Regions from separate parts of the Homo sapiens genome. Here region 1 is linked to region 2. The links come from fine-mapping of genetic effects on gene expression. A gene starts in region 2. The other region holds a variant in brackets. All regions are shown on one strand. Distances are between the middles of the regions.

The links.
Region 1: its variant is fine-mapped to the expression of FAM3C in sun-exposed skin (GTEx, PIP above 0.99). The same link has a PIP of 0.9 or more in fibroblasts, lung, prefrontal cortex and whole blood.

Annotation. Positions count from the first base shown.
Region 1 is chr7:121,342,751-121,350,999 of GRCh38, forward strand. It overlaps FAM3C (FAM3 metabolism regulating signaling molecule C), which reads right to left. Exons shown (of 10, transcript NM_014888.3): 10 at 6,128-7,800. The coding sequence ends at 7,711. Among named protein-coding and RNA genes, the nearest start is that of WNT16, 18 kb to the left of the region's middle. The variant A/G (reference allele first, on the strand shown) is at 3,556.
Region 2 is chr7:121,392,977-121,401,405 of GRCh38, forward strand. It overlaps FAM3C (FAM3 metabolism regulating signaling molecule C), which reads right to left and starts at 3,332. Exons shown (of 10, transcript NM_014888.3): 1 at 3,186-3,332. It also overlaps the pseudogene CYCSP19. RefSeq lists enhancers at 2,369-2,954, 2,955-3,539 and silencers at 2,767-3,596, 3,637-3,696.

The DNA.
Region 1 (8,249 bases), 50 kb before region 2:
GTTTAGGAAACAGCTTTTGATATTACATGGAGCTCACAACAGACAAAGCAAGCCCTAAGCACTGTGGATTATGAATGTGGGTTCAAAGTGCTTTGATTTGTTTAAATACCTTGCATAATGTTAAAGGGCGAAGGGAGGTGCTCCAGTGGATTATTTTTCAATTTAGGAGTTCAAATTCTTTGTAAATTTGGAACTGCCTAATAAAGGCAATGGTAAGAGGCAATGATTCATCCTGAAACAAAGTCAAGAAAAACATATTAAATGATATTATCTGTAACATCTGGATTAGGAAGTTGAATAATTAAGGCATTTTCCTGATAATGGTACTTTACACAACATTAACAACATGTTAATTCTTTTTAGTATAAACAACTGCATTATTTCTTTATTCACAATTCGGATGATAGTCATTTTGTTTTCTATTTTAAGAGACTATGATAATTATATTAAAAATAACAACAAAATTTTAATTTTACACATTAGATGCTGTGACCTTATGTTTTGGCAGCTTTAAAACTATGTGATATGCACAGTAAGTATTTTAAAACACATTTTAATTTTCTCCAGGACTGTTAGTACTAATATGATATTTGTACTTAGTTTAAATATTTGTACTAAGTTTATTTGTACTAAGTTTAAATACGTAGTAGAAACAGAAAAGCGTCTCATCAAAATACTTATTTCTAGGCAATTTAGTGAGTTGCTCATCCTTTTTGCATCACCTCCCAAAGGTCATCAAAGATTGAGAAATTCGACTCACTATTTAGAGGCAGGAAGTGATCTGGAACACTGATTACCTTAGGTGATTTGAGGGAAGAAAAATTTGAATCCTATCTTCAGAAACCTCAAATACTCCTCAAGACAAGCCTTTCTTAAAGAAAGTTGGCTAAGATGTCTCCTTTTTGAAATTAATTTAAATTTTACTATAGACCAGATGTGATAAATCATGACATTTCTTGGGGGCAAGATGATGACACGTGGCACAGCATGACAAGGGACACAGTGATACACAAGGAAAGGACTAATTTACTTTGAAAGAATAAATAATATTAGCAAATACCTCCATAGCACTTAGTATATACCCGTATTAGTCTAAGTAAAAAATATATAGAGAGATACATATAAAAATTCAATCTTCACAACAACCTCGTAAAGTAGGTACATTATTGTAGTTTTCGTTTTACAGCTGAGGAAACTGAGACACACAGTAAGTTCCCAGCCCAAGGTCACACAGAAGGAACTGGCTTCAATGTCTGTGCCCTTAACTACCACATTGTTATTGTGCTTCTCACAGTATCAGAATTGTCAGACTGTGTTTACAAACATATGCCATTTAAAGAATTTAGGGGATTTGTGAATGTAATGAAAGTTACAGGATGTTCTTCATGGTTTGGTTATATAAACTTGGTTGAAAAGTAGGGAGCGAAGTGATGGGAGAGCTGAGATCTTAGAATTTACTATGAAATAAAATTAAAATACACTGCCTCTTGATTACTAAGCCCAAAGTGACTTACGCTGACTTCTATTTTAGATTGCAATGTGGCTTACAGTTGGATTGTGCAAGAATCTAATAACCATTCCAAAAGAAAATAACTAGGGGTAAAGATCAAACTAATTTAGTGTGACATAAAATAAATACTTACATCCTTTTTATTGTTGTGCTTACAGCCAAATGTTACATAAGGTGTTATTTTTAACAGATGGATTAAAATTTACTATTTGTAATGGTTTACACTCATATCCAAAGGAAAACCACTAGAGGTGGTTTGCACCAGATTAAAACTTTTTGAAACAAAATCATACTAGCAAAAGCAGCCTCTCCCATGTGGTTGTAAAGTAATAAAGGAGAATCAAGTCAACACAAACTAAAGTTTCATGTGTGACTTTATAATTTGCAGAGTAAGTAAAAGCATCTGATTCATGTGAATTGGAAAGGCAGAAAGGGCGGTGGCTGAGGGCTGCCTTTGTCCCTATCAGATGGCCATTCAGAACCATCAGGGTAGCTCTACTGCAGAGGCCAAGCCTTTCCTTCCACATTTTAGTAACCACCTGACACCCATGATCATGGCCCACACATTTACTTGGCCCTGTTTAGCCAAGAAGAAAGGGCAGATCCTTGGTGCCCCTACTCACTCTTTGGTGAGAGAAATATCACCAAATATACCAGTACATTTAAATACACCTCGAATTCTCTGGAAACCAACGAAAGGTGTAGATACACAAAATGGAAATCAATAACTACCTATGTATTGCCAGTACATAATCCTTACTTTCTCTTAGTCCTATCCACTGTCATTGTTTTATCTCAAATTCCCTGGCAAACAAGGCTCTATGCAAGGCAAGAAATAACACAGGACACAATAGCAAAATGGGAAAGCTGAAGAAGTGAATGGGATAAATCCTCTCTAACATGTCCCCTACTTAATGGGTACAGGAACTTTGCAAACTGAAAGATAAATTTCAATTCTCAGTGTGAGAAATTATTTCCTTCACCGGCTTAAAGTTGTTTTGCTTTCCCCAAATGCCCAATTCATCATTTTTTGAGAAACTATACTTTAAAATACAAGAATGATTTCAAAATTTCACTTGCCACAATTCCTGTAACTGTGCCCATATCCAACACATCCAGTGCTTTAAAACCACAGGGAACCTAATCCAGACTATTTCCATAATATAATTTTAACACCCTTTTGTAAGGTCTTAACAGTTCCACAAGAATTAGCTGTCAATATCATTTTTGGTCAAACGTTTCAGATTTCCATAGAGGTCTAGGAATGAGCTCACTTACCTTAAACCTTAAGTCCTTTCCCTAAGGGAGAACAGGAAGCCATTTGGGGCAGGCTGCACTCCCCAGGTAAGAAGGAGGCAGGACATAAGGCCCAGTTCTTGCTCATTCCTTACACCTAAGGAAATCTTCACCAATTGACTCTCCCACTTCTACCCACTGAAAACCACAACTCTCAGGGAATACTGCCTTCTCCACTAACCCAACATATTTCTAACCATAGCCCAACCATCATTTGCTTTTAAATCTCTCCTCTTCTCAGAGGTTGGACTCACAATGCATACTCCTTGGGATTCCTTTCTGTTCTTGCCAAATAGAGCACATAATACTTCTGTAACCAGCCTTCCAAAAAACAGAGCATACACAAGCTAAGTAGCTTTTGGAGTTGAAATTTAAAATAATTTAAGAGATTTCCATGTTAATACCAACATCTGTAAATAATAAAAAAATGCAAAATTCATGTGAAGTTTTACAATCAGAGAACTTCACAGGCTCACACTGGACTTTTCGCTAAAAGACAAGATTCCCAAGGGTGACCATTAGTCTCCTCTGCTTTGAGGGATATACTTATGGAAAACAGAGCAATTCTTTTCAACAGGTAGATGTCCAAATCGGCCATCTTATTCCACTGGTGATACAGGAGGCTACAATTTGGTGGGGAAGTCACTGGCCTCACTGTTGAGTTTGTTCTGTGTCAGAGAGGGCCAGCTGAGCCCCAGCATCTTCCCCACCATGATCAGTATGCCACCCTGCCCCGCAGCAGGAATTGG[A/G]GTGGTGAGGTTATTAGGAGCAGGGATCAAGGCCTGCACTCTCCAGTGAGGCTCATCAACCACCTCCTGCCACAGGAAGAGGTCAGCAAGGGCTCCCAGCCTCTTTGGCTTAAGTCACATACTTTCCCCTAAAGGCCAGACCAGCAATCAAGTAGAACCACTTAAAATGCTAGCTACCTGAAGATACACCAAAATACATAAATTAACCACTTAAAATGGTAGCTACTTGGAGATACATAAAAGCCTGAATTCTACCTATGAAGGGGAGTTGGTGTCAATGTGTAATAAGTGAAAAGGTAGGCAGAATATGAAAGAGGTTTGGAGGTCAAGGAGAACCTCAGGTGAAGAAATGAATGAAACCTCTCCCATGATCTTACTGCTCAAGTCATCTAATGGCTCCCTTCTGGCTGGGTATGATGGGATTGGAAAGCTAGAGAGGCTGACTTGTTGCAGCTTCTCTTGGGCTAAAATGCCTGTAAGACACACGGTTGATAACAGCAATACTAGCAGTTGCACTGAATGAGTACTTTGTGCCAGGCACTTTGATAGGCACCACAAACATGCTGGTATTATCCCTGTTTTACAGGTGGACATTGACTTCCTCAAAGTCCTCAAGTAGTTCACAGTGGAACAGAGATGAATTTTCAGGCAAGTCTGCACTCTTAACCACTATGCCACACTGTCTCCCCACTACAGAATTCTCTCCTCTTTAAAGGTTTTTCAGACCCTTTTCTCTTTGGCTATCAAGTGAAGGAAATATGGGCTGACTATACGGAACATTACGAGCTTGCAGGTTATAAGTCAATTTTCCCTGACCAAAGGGAGTATCTTTTATCAATTTAGCCTCAGCTTGTTCTTTCAATATTAAATGCACCCCAGTGGTTGTCATAACTGATGCAGAGCTGAACAGTGAAGTTAGTGATGGCAACAAGTTGTACCTGTGAACTAGTTGTACTGAGAAGATTGTCTTCCCCATGCTAACTTTGCTTACAAATTGCCATGGGACAAGCCCAAGAGAAACATCTCTTCTGTCTTTAACCTGAGAACTTCCCAGTCCCTTTTCCTTTCTGACCGCTCATAGAAGAGACATCTAACTATTTGAAGTGTTTCCCCAGTATAGCTTCCCTCAAGGTGTTTGCCCCCTCACTGGCCTGGAGGAAGGTTCTGATGGCAGAAGAGTCTCTTAGATTCCCTGGAGGGCTTTTCCCATGCTGCCTGAAACATCCTTTGATGCTCTCTTCATGCTGTCTAGCAACAAATGAATGACATTCCCTCGCGAAGCCTGCTTACTTTTCACTCCATCTAGCCTTTGATTTGCCTGGAAACTCAAAAAAAAAAAAAAAAAATCACAATAAGGAGCAAGCAGAGAAAAAAGGCTTAAATTGAGCGAGTTTGGATGGAAATAGAAATTAACTAGTTACAGCATGTGATAATCAAAAATCAAGTATGTGGTAGAAAAATCATTCTGAAAAGAGACAGAAAATCCTTTTGAGGAATGCAAAGGTGCAATCTGTTATTTTATTCTATAGCTCTAAATTTACATGGATTTATTGCTGTACAAGAGGTTGAAATAATTGAAGAGGTTTAAGTGACAAATCTCCCTAATCAACACAAGTAATTTATCTCTCTCATATTCCTTTGAAACAAAGTATTCTAAATGAATTTCCACTTTTAATTGCTCTACTAACTGAACATGGCACATTTTGCATTCAATTAAGGGAGAGTTTGTTGACCAAACTGAATGAAATTATAACTTTTTTGGTCAAGTTATTTAAAATTTATGTAAATTTTTAAAGTATAAAGTGCAACAGGCTAAATGAACTCAGCTTTGATCTGTCATAAAATTATAACATAGCTGATTCACTTAAAAACAAGTCCAATATAGAAAGAACAATGATAAATTTCCCATTAATCCAATTAAATTCAGGAATATAAAGACTCTGGTTCAATCTTCCTTTAATTTCCCAAATACCACTTATTTTCCTGCTTTCTCTTGTTCAATTTTAACATTCACATTACAATACACTTATTCTGGGACAGCATCGGATTACAAATAAAAAATATGCATCGATAAGCCCATAAGCACCATTTCAAATACTATGTCAATGTTAATTTGATTTTAATAAAGAACATTCTTAATATTAAATGAGCACTGTTTCATGTCTAAAACCGATTTTAAAGAGGTATCTGAAAATGTAGTATAAAGTTATTGCTTTCAAAGTTAAGTTGGCACAATCTATACAAGATTGAACTGAGACAAAAGGAAACCACACCAGTTAACATAACCAATCTTTGTCTTCTTTTAACATTTTATATATCTGGAAAAGCTATCCTTTTACAGTCTTAATAAAAGGGCTTTTTCCGCCATCTAGATACTTAGCTTCTTACATGTTAAGACACATCTAGGATATTACTATTTTTAACCACAGCAACAATTTTTTTTCCAAGTTAGGCAGTATAATAAATGCTTGAAAAACCTTGTGTGAGTTTTTGTGAAGTTCTGTAGGTATATTACTTTGCCAGATAATACAAAAAAAAAAAAAAATTCACAAAGCAAAACCAAGAGTATTTATTTTCATTATTTTAAAAAACTGCAACATTTATTTCACAATCCCTGGAACTGTAAAATAACTATTCTTTTAATTTACAGAATTGAGGGAAGTATTTTAAATGTCAAAATACACATGCTGAATGTGATTTAGCATATAAGCACCAAAAATCCCAAAAGTATACAAAGATTGTTTAAACATATAAGGTGCATTTATTCATGAATTAATTACATTCAGTTTGAAGGAAGAAACAGTACTCCAAAGTTCATCAATATTTAAGAAATTATCCGAATAGCTTCCAACTTGGTTTACAGCTAAATAACAGATACTGCTTTTAGGTTTTTTTATACAATGCATCTAAACTTTAGGTTCGAAATTTAAGTGCTGCCTTACACTGTGAATGGCAGTTTGATCACTAAATTTATGTTCCAGTTTGAGATACTTCATACACAACATATATTTAATGCCCTGAAAACTTCTGCTTAAAAACTGAGTTATTTAGTGAACATCTGAAGGTAACAAAAAAAGATAGATCTTCTATATTTTTATGTAGAATTGGGTATAAAGTCATTTGGGGTCAAACACAATTATTTTTTAAATGTTATCAGTCCGCCCAGTAATAAGAACTTTTGTAAATATGCCACTATAGCTTCGGGCAATAATTGCTATTATGAAGTTAGATAAACACAGGATTAATTTCTTGGTTTACAAATCAAAATTATTGTGATATTAAAGCATGCCTCCTTCCAAACCACTTGGTCAATGCTGATAACAATTAAGAAAAACGTATGCTAGTATTGCTCTAAATATACTGACTTAGCTGTCCTGAATGACCTAATTAGGTTGGGGAGGGGACTTGGCCTGGTTCTCCAGTTCTGTGAAGCTGCCACCTCCAGCCTCACTCTAAATAGCTTATACAAAATCAAGTTATTCCCATAGCTAACACAAATCCAGCAAGCTGTGGTCCTAAATGCCATCTACATTTATATATTTACTTTTTTACTGTGTACATTAAGAATTTTGTTGTGCTTTTCACATATCCGATGTATGTTTTCATATTAAACATTCCTCAGTTTCTTGGGAAGGAAAGAAAAAGATCATGAAAAGAGGTACATCAGGAGAGTCGGACTGTAAAGTAACATTACACACACAACTAGCCAAATCTCTTTTTAATTTAAAAGATAATGTCATCACAACGCAACATATAGAAACATAAAAGAAAATAAAGTATCCACCCTAAAATCCCTATTATTCCATGATATTTTCATAGCAACTAGTATATATATCAATATATTTTTCACAAACCATTCAGTTACACATTGTGTATGCTTTTAGAATTTAAAATATGTATTACCATAGCAGTCTAAACATTGTACTTTTAGGGAAATGTGCGGAGACATGGTTCAGTGATTTGATCATTGTGATGATTATTTACAATGCTATCTATTTACGTTAGCAATAAATAATCCTGATATCAAAAGAGACAATACTCATGCACACACCAAGATGGCTGCATGCTCTTAAAATATTTACACATAGCTCTGCCATTTATAGCTCTCCCATTAAGAGTGAAAGTGCGCTTTCTTCAATTCTCTCCACATTTCCATTAGTCTTGCTTCTGGGGGATGCATCCTTCCATTTCTACAACTTCAGGCCATCCTTCATATTTGTTTGTATCCTTATTGTTCTTTATGTGCTATTGGAACACAGTAATAATATACAGTTTAAAAAACCGTTGTAAACTGCTGATTTGCCGTAACATTTTACACACTTCTCATTTCAGTAATACTCATGTCAACAATAAGTTCATTTAAATTACTGGTCAAGATATTAAATGAGTGACCCTCAGGCTGTATCACATACATGGCAGACCTTCAAATAACAGCTGAAAGAATACATTGCACGTGCTTTTAAAGGATTATTTGCTACTCAAAAACTAACATTTACATTCTACTAAGTTCTAAAATATTTCCAAACTTCACTGATTCTAAAATCCAAAGCTCAATTAAAATCCTTAATAACTAAAGCTTCCGAAAAGGCTTAAGATAGGTAATCCTATTCCAATGCATTGTCCTGTAGGAAAAAATATTCCCATGCAGAATTTTCAAGTTTTGAAATTTAAAAGTACGATAGTTATTTCAAATA
Region 2 (8,429 bases):
TTTTAGGAAAATCCAGAATAGATAAATTTATGGGGGCAGAAAGCAGATCAGTGGTTGCCGAGGATTGGCAGGGAGAAGGGAATGAACAACTGCTTAATGAATATGGGGTTTCCTTTTGGGGTGATGAAAATGTTTTAGAAACGTGACGGTTCATAACATCATGAACGTGCTAAATGCCACACTTTAAAATGGAAAATCTGGCTAGGCATAGGGGCTCATGTCTGTAATCCCAGAGCTTTGGGAGGCTGAGGTCGAAGGATCACCTGAGGGCAGATTTGGCCAGCCTGTGCAAAATAGTAAGATCCCGTCTTTTAAGAAAAAAAATTATAAAATTAGTCGTGTGTGGTGGCACATGCCTGTAAACCTAGCTACTCCACAGGCTAAGGTGGAGTTCAAGGCTACAGTGAGTTATGATCACACCACTGCACTCCAGTCTGCAGAACAGTGGGGTACCCTGTCTTTGTAAATAATTTAAAAATAAAATGAAAAATTCTGTTACAGGAATTTAATTTAAAAAAGAAAATTGGAAGAAAAAACTCACTGAAGTTAGAAAAATCATGAATAGCGGATTTTCAAAATTAGATTAAAAATAAGGGAAATATAAGAATAGCTTCAATCAAATGGAGCAGGCCAATGAAGAAGAAAAAGAATATTAATGGGTACACTGGAAAGACTTAGGGGTATTACAACACTTAATTTCCTCCTCTGAGAGGAAGTCAGCCGATTGTGTCTCAAAGAATTGCATTAAAAGAAAGTACAAAACCTTTTAAAAGTTCAAAGATTTTGGGAAATTACCTGGTTCAGTCTACTCAATCAGATTAAAAAGGACTGCATGATATTAAGTAATTTAGTCAATGCCACTCTTGAAATAACTAAATACAGAATCAATGCTTCAAATCCTGATCATCTGATCCCAAGAACAGAGACGCTTCTGGACTAAATTCAAGACAAACTTTTGCTATTATACCAAGGTCGCACAAAAATCTATCTAGCTCAGCGCTAACATAAAAATCTTTTGCTATTTGGGTCTTGCACCTTTCAGCTTTAAGAAATGGGCATAAAAATAAAAATAAAAAAGATTCCCTGCTTTAGAGAAAATAAAGTAGCTTTGTGAGTGCCCAGGCTGTCTTATTCATAGTATCCATGATATCTACAATTACTGGTACATGGTAGGCACTCCAGTATTTTTAAGAGTATAAAAATTTTTGAAAAATGAATCGTTCAAAACCTAAAATATATGGTGGAAAATATATGAGTCTTCTGATACCCCCTCAGGGAACATTACTTTTTGCCATTCCATAGCCTCTTAGCCTTTTGGCTGTCTTTTCCAATTTCCTTTTCCTTTTTAATGTATCTTCATAAATTATGAAAGATTAGTTGACAATGCTTAAGGCAGCAATCCACATTAAAAATCTGTAATTGTAATAAAACATCCATTAAGTTTATTTTTAAAGTCACTTTAAGCCAGTAGTGTCTTATTTTTACTCCCTTTTGAAACAGAAGCCCCTTACAATGAGGATTTTGAGGAACCTGTCCTGTGTCCCTCTTACAAAGTTCCCATTGGTAATTCAGAGAGGTCCTCAGGTTGAGAACTGCTGGACTGAACTCCTTTTATTGGCTCCAACTCTTCTTATTTCTTCCTATGAAGAAATGCTAGTCTTTATTGAGTTGAGAAAACATTACAAGAATCTGTGAAACAAAGCTTCTAATACCTGTATAAAACTGAAAACCTTGTGACTTTATTGGTAAACAGCCAAGAAACACAAGAGACTACTAGTAGCCTCTAGAAAGAGGTACAGGTCGATGAAGTGACCAAAACCGGATGCTGATTTGCTGATTCTGCCAATTTCTTGTTAAATGGCTTTCAGTAAGTGATTAACTTTTATTTTCTAAATTCAATAGAGATCTGCTGGTACTCTGTAAGATACTGTATGACTAATAGTAACGGTTCCCAAGACTTAAGAAAACGTAACTGCAAATTGGCCACAAGTCCAAGGGGTCGGGGCCTCTGCTATCAGCATTGACCTTTACTCTCGGGAGTTCATATTTCCATCTGTAAAACTAGAAAAGATAAAGGGACTTATTCACTGAGCTGTTGTGAGAATAAATGAGCACACGAAACCATTTGGCAGTGCCTAGTACACAGTAAGCAATCTAATATTATTTATGTCATTGTATCCATATATATATGGATACATACATATATATGGATACATGGATACATACATATATACGGATACATACATATATATGGATACATACATACATATATATGGATACATACATATATATGGATACATACATATATATGGATACATACATATATATGGATACATACATACATATATATATATGGATACATACACCTGGCTAATTTTTTTATTTTTTAGTAGAGACGAGGTTTCACCATGTTGGCCAAAAAGAAACAAAGGAAAAGTCCTATCAATTAGATAGCAGTTCTATATTACAGGCAATAATATTTTTTCTTAAAAAAAAAAAAGGTAGAGGATGATGGAAACCGCTCCTCCCACAAGTAAAACAGCTGGAGCTCTCAATCTCAAATTGCCAATCCGTCACTCACATATTCAGATCTAGGGCCACTAATCATCATCCGTGGTCCCGAGCTGTGAGAGCAGTAGCAAACAAATAGGAAGAAAAAGAAGAGACACCAAACATCAAAGGGCTGGATAGCTTGTAAAAAACCAAAAGTACCTCTAGTATAGGCGACACTAAAACTTTACAAGTGAGTCAAAACGGCCCCCTATGGAGTTGGAATGCAACACCCAACTCCGTCCCCACCTCTCGGAGCTCTCAGCCTACACGCTGCAGGGGCGCGAGCCACAGCCAACCTGGGGAAGATGCGACCCAGGTGCCCGCCCCAGGCCGGGGCGCCGAGTGCCAGCGCCAGGTGCAGACGCCGCCCCGTCTCCGCGGAGCCCGGGGATGCCCACGCCGGGGCGGCGGCCGGGAACCCCGGCCAGCGGCTCTCCGGGACCCCAGTCCCGCCTGCGCCCTCTCCAACGTCCGGACACGCCGTGACAACGCGGCCGGGCCCGGGGCCCGCCCCCGGCCGGTGACCGCAGTGCGCGGAGGCTGAAGTCGTAGGTGGGCGTCTGGCTTCCCCGGCCTCCTCCATCCCTCCCCGAACCTGAGCCCCGGCTCCGTCCGCCTCCCAGCCGTCTCACCGGCCTCCCGCCCGCCTCTCCGCCGCGCGCGCCCGCCTTCCGGCCTCCCAGCGCTCAGTCCTGCCGGAGGCCGACGGGAGCCGCCGCCTCCAGCTCGCGCCTCCGCTTCCTCTCGGACTCCTCCGGCTGCCCCTCACCCCGGCAAGTGGCCAGGAGAAAGCCAGCTCGCCGCTGGGCCTCCTCCCACGCTTCCCGGCCGCGACCAATGGGCCCCCGCCGCCGGGAAGCCGCGCCCGCCCCCTGGCGGTGGAGGACCAAGCGGGCGCCCGGGCCGGCCAGAGGGAAGGGCCGGAGAGCGGAGGGAGGGGTCTGCGGTCCCGCCCACCGCCCCCGGCCAGGCGCTGCACAATCTGAACTTGCCACGTGGGAGCTGCCGCCGCCGCAGCGGCCCTGCGCCGGGTGGCACTACGGGAGGGAGAAAAATGTGTCACCGCCGTCTCCCCACCGTTTACACGCACAAAATCCCAGCCTCAAGGGCAGAACATTTTAAATGACCCACCCATCCTAGAGATGCGCCAGTTAGGTCATCTTATATATCTTGAGATAGCTGAGATGGTCAGATCAACCAAGGACCTTGGGTTATTTGCCGTTTGACTTCTTGAACCCTAGGAAACTGATTCTGAAAATCCTACTGTCCAGCGTCATTAGAATTCTGATCACCTTTAATGCACCACCCAAGAAGAACAGTAGTCCTTGCATTTTCCAAGTCACGTTTATTTTTTAAATTATAAGATACACAATCGTTAGAAATATTTTTTCTCAGGAGATTTCCTACAATTGTGTTGATAATTGGGAAGTTAATCCAAATCTTACTACATAAGACCTTAGAATGCAAAATTATTTCATAATTCAGATCCATATTCTAAAATAATGAATAACTGTTACCTAGTATTTGACAGAATATTGGGATCATCAGTGGTTGCAGAAATTAAATTGCATTTAAAAATAGGGTTTGACTATAGTGTGTTAATATAGAATTAATAATCTACCAAATTTTAGCTTTCCTCCAAAAATATAAAACACACAAACTAATAGTAACTATGAATTCTGGAGTTTGTGATCCGTGATCAGGGGAGAAAGCATGAAATGAATTCTCATTGTCTTCCATGTGCCAATATTATGCTATTTGTGTATTACTTAAATCAAAAAACTAAGACTCCAAAACTGAGTTTAAATATCTTGCTCAAAAATACAAGATAGTAAGTTATGAAGCTGGAATTCCGGCCTAGCTTCATGTAGCTCCAAATAAACAAAAAGGCACTTTGCTTATTATAGTACCAAAAAATCATAACACTTACTGTACACATGCCTCTCCTAGACTGCTATGTCTCACTGAAAGAGTTTATGAAGCCTCTTGAGTAGGGAGGTCACGGTGTATTTCTGAAAGAGCAATCTGCTCTGTAACCGAGCCAACCAGATTGGAAATTACATGTGACATATTCTTATAGCACCACACCTGAAACAATTCCTGTGCATAAAGTTTAATGTGTTAGTAGCCTATTCTCCACTGACCATAAGATATAGCTTAGAACCCTTTGGTAGGTAATGAAATTAATAACAATGGGTCACAACCAACATTTTGTTGCTGTTGATTCACTGAAAAATAGAAAAAAAAAACAGTTCAAAGCATAAATTCAGGATAAGTATTCTTCATGAAACATTTGTACAGCATCATGTGTGGGTGAGTGTCTGTGTGTCTATGTCCTGGATACAGTAGAAATTATATTTCTTAATATGGGTTTCAATTTTTTTAACATTGGTAAATCACTTCTTTAGGACTCCTGTTAATCAGCCAGTTCTTACACCTATAAACGAGTAAGGATAACTTCCTACTTTTACTTGGCAGGAGGTAGGGGAGCCAGGAGAAGTATTCAGGATTAATGATTAAGCTTAATAAAACCACAGAGCTTTACAGCTCCAGGAGGTATAAGCCAAAGGTGTTGGCTATTACAATAACTACCGATAATTTATATTATATAATAATAGCTACTGATAATGTATATTTCTAAAGCTGATATTTATTGTGTGCTTATTGTGCACCAGGCACTTTTCTAAGCACTTTATATATATAGACTTATTTAATTCTCACAATAATCCTATAAATACAGCGGAGAAAAGTGAAACTTGCTCAAGGTCCTTCTGCTATGACCAGACAGAGCTAAGATTCAAACTCACGTGCTCAACTTCAAAGCCCAACTTTTTTGTTGACTCGAAAAGAATATACAGAGAGTGTGACATCCAGCTTCTGAGTGTCATCCTTCATAGCACAAGCAACAAAAGAGAGGATTAAATATGGATGATGTTGAGAAAGGCAAGAAGATTTGTATTCAGAAGTGTGCCCAGTGCCACACTGTGGAAAAGGCAGGCAAGCACAGGACTGGGCCTAATCTCCATGGTCTCTTCGGATGGAAGACAGGTCAAGCCGTTGGATTATTTTACACAGATGCCATTAAGAACAAAGGCATCACCTGGGGAGAGGATACACTGATGGAGTATTTGGAGAATCCCAAGAAGCACATCTCTGGAACAAAGTGATCTTTGCCAGCATTAAGAAGAAGGCAGAAAGAGCAGACTTGATAGCTTATCTCAAAAAAGCTACTAATGAATAATAATTGGCCACTGCCTTATTTATTACAAAACAGAAATGTCTTATGACTTTTTTATGTGTACCATAATTTAATAGACCTCACACACCAGAATTCAGATCATGAATAACTGACAGAATATTTTGTTGGGCAGTCCTGATGTAAAACTAAGACTGGCTTGCAGTTAAATGAATATGTTCAGTTTTTTTGAATTTTAATAGTAATCCAATTCAGTAAATGCTATCACTGTTTACCCTTTCTAAAGACATGATTTGATTAGACTTTGTTAGTAATGTTCAGCTTTTCACAAAGATGGTGAATGCCATCTTAAAACATATTGGAGATTGGTTTTATATTTGGATTTATATAACTGGTTATGTGAATATATTTAAATACTGGAGAAATTCCTTCACTATCTCAGAACCAAGCAAGATTCACCTGTGTTTTGTGTTCATTTGCCTCTTAAAGGCAAGGGTTGAAGATAAGGTAGCAATGTCTACTTTATATTTTTGGCCTTAACTATGTCAATCTAATTAGAATTCCCTGTATTTAAAATAGTTCCTTTTACTTATTGAAAGGCATTTTAGTGTGGTGTATGTGTAATATCAAATAAAGATTATTTAACACTTCTCACATTTTATAGATGATCTGTAAGATAATATGCTTTTAAAATAGTAGCAAGTTAAACTTCACTCTTGAATTATTTACAATCTAAGTCAAACTAAGTTATAATTTAGGATTGTCTTTAAACAGCCATTCAGAGGCTGGGCGTGGTAGATCATGAGGTCAGGAGATTGAGACCATCCTGGCTAACACGGTGAAACTCGTCTCTACTAAAAATACAAAAAATTAGCCGGGCGTAGTGGCGGGCACCTGTAGTCCCAGCTACTGGGGAGGCTGAGGCAGGAGAATGACGTGAACCCGGGAGGCAGAGCTTGCAGTGAGCTGAGATCGCACCACTGCACTCCAGCCTGGGCCACAGAGTGAGACTCTGTCTCAAAAAAAAAAAAAAAAAAGCCATTCAGAAACAGAAAATCGTAGAACTGCTGTGTATTTGTGATTGGGAATGGTGCTTTTGCCAACTTAAAATGATTAAAGTAGAGGAGATATACACAAATTTTAAAATTATATGTGATCATAAGGCTTAAAAACAAAACCACAAATCATGATTAAAAGAAAGGAATGTTCATTCTCTCAATAGGTGCCATATTTTATATAAAACTATAACCTGCTTTATATTACTGTAACTATATAAGAATATATAAAAAATGTATATATAAGAATTAGATAATATTGTTAAATACAAAATTTCCAAAAAGCCTCAGAATTTTAATTGCACCCACCCTCAAGAAGAAGAGTCCACTTGGTATCATTTTTCTGTATATGGAGTAGTAAATTATAGGCAAATATGGCTACCAACAATTCCCCCATTCCTGTAAGTTCATGCCACTTTGTTTTTTACCATCAAGAGGTCAATCTATGTCCTCTTCTCTTGAACCTAGGCTGGCCCCGGGACTTATTCTGACCCATAGAATGCATGGAGGAGATCTTATGTGACTTATGGGCTTAGACCCTAAGAGACCTTGCAGCTTCCATTTTCACTAGCTTCAGGATCTAGTCACCATATAGGAAACTCAGACAACTACTGAATAATGAGAAACTACATGCAGAGAGAGGCCTAGCTCTCTCTCTCCATCCACACCATCCCAACCACTTCCCCAAGGCACCAGCTATATGAGTAAAGTCGTGTTGCATGTTCTAGCTCCAGCTAAGCTCCTACCTGAGTATATCACATGAGTAACTCCAGACAGTACCACATGGAGCATAACTGCCCAGCTTAGACCAACAAACCCACAGAAACTTGAGAAATAACATACTTAAAAAAATTTACTAAGTATTGTGGTAGTTTGTTACACAGCAATAAATAACTGAATCAGGGAAGAAAACATTTGTAGGGGGAAAAGAGTTGACCAACTCTGGGGGTAGGATTACTTTAAAATATTCAAGCATGTTTATATTGGATTATAAACTCAAACCTGTGGCAAGATGGCCAGAAACTTGCCTAGCTTCTAAAGAATATAGCAGAAGAGAGAGAAAAAGAGAGGTAAAATAATAAAACTGAAAGTAAACGTGTCAAATTTTATACCTATACAGGTTAAAATACCACATCTAAGTGTCATTTGAAAATTATTATTCAGAGTTTTTATAAAAATGTGAATTTAAAACCCTTAAACTTCATCCTTGCCTGTAAGGGCAAAATAGTACAGTTCAAAAAGCTGGAGTGCGCACAGATTTCATGGCACTGTATTTGATACATTAGCAACACAGCCTATAAAATGTGGTTTAATTTACTATGAAACATGGAGGATACAGTAGAATGGCATTACAGCAAATGTATCTTTGCACAAAAAAGACTCTAAGTTTTTAATCTATTACTTTTCTAGTAACATACAAGAAAATTCTAGATACCATAAAAATTTGAATTTTTAAATGAATTGAATAAAAAATAAATATTCAAATAAATTTGACTTTTGATTTCACTGCATAGGGGATTCTAGTTTGGATTTGATGTTTTAATAGGTCTTTCAGTGTCGGAAAATTTAGCATTTTTGTCTTGCTTATGAATCATGTTAAATGATATACTGTATATGGTAACCCA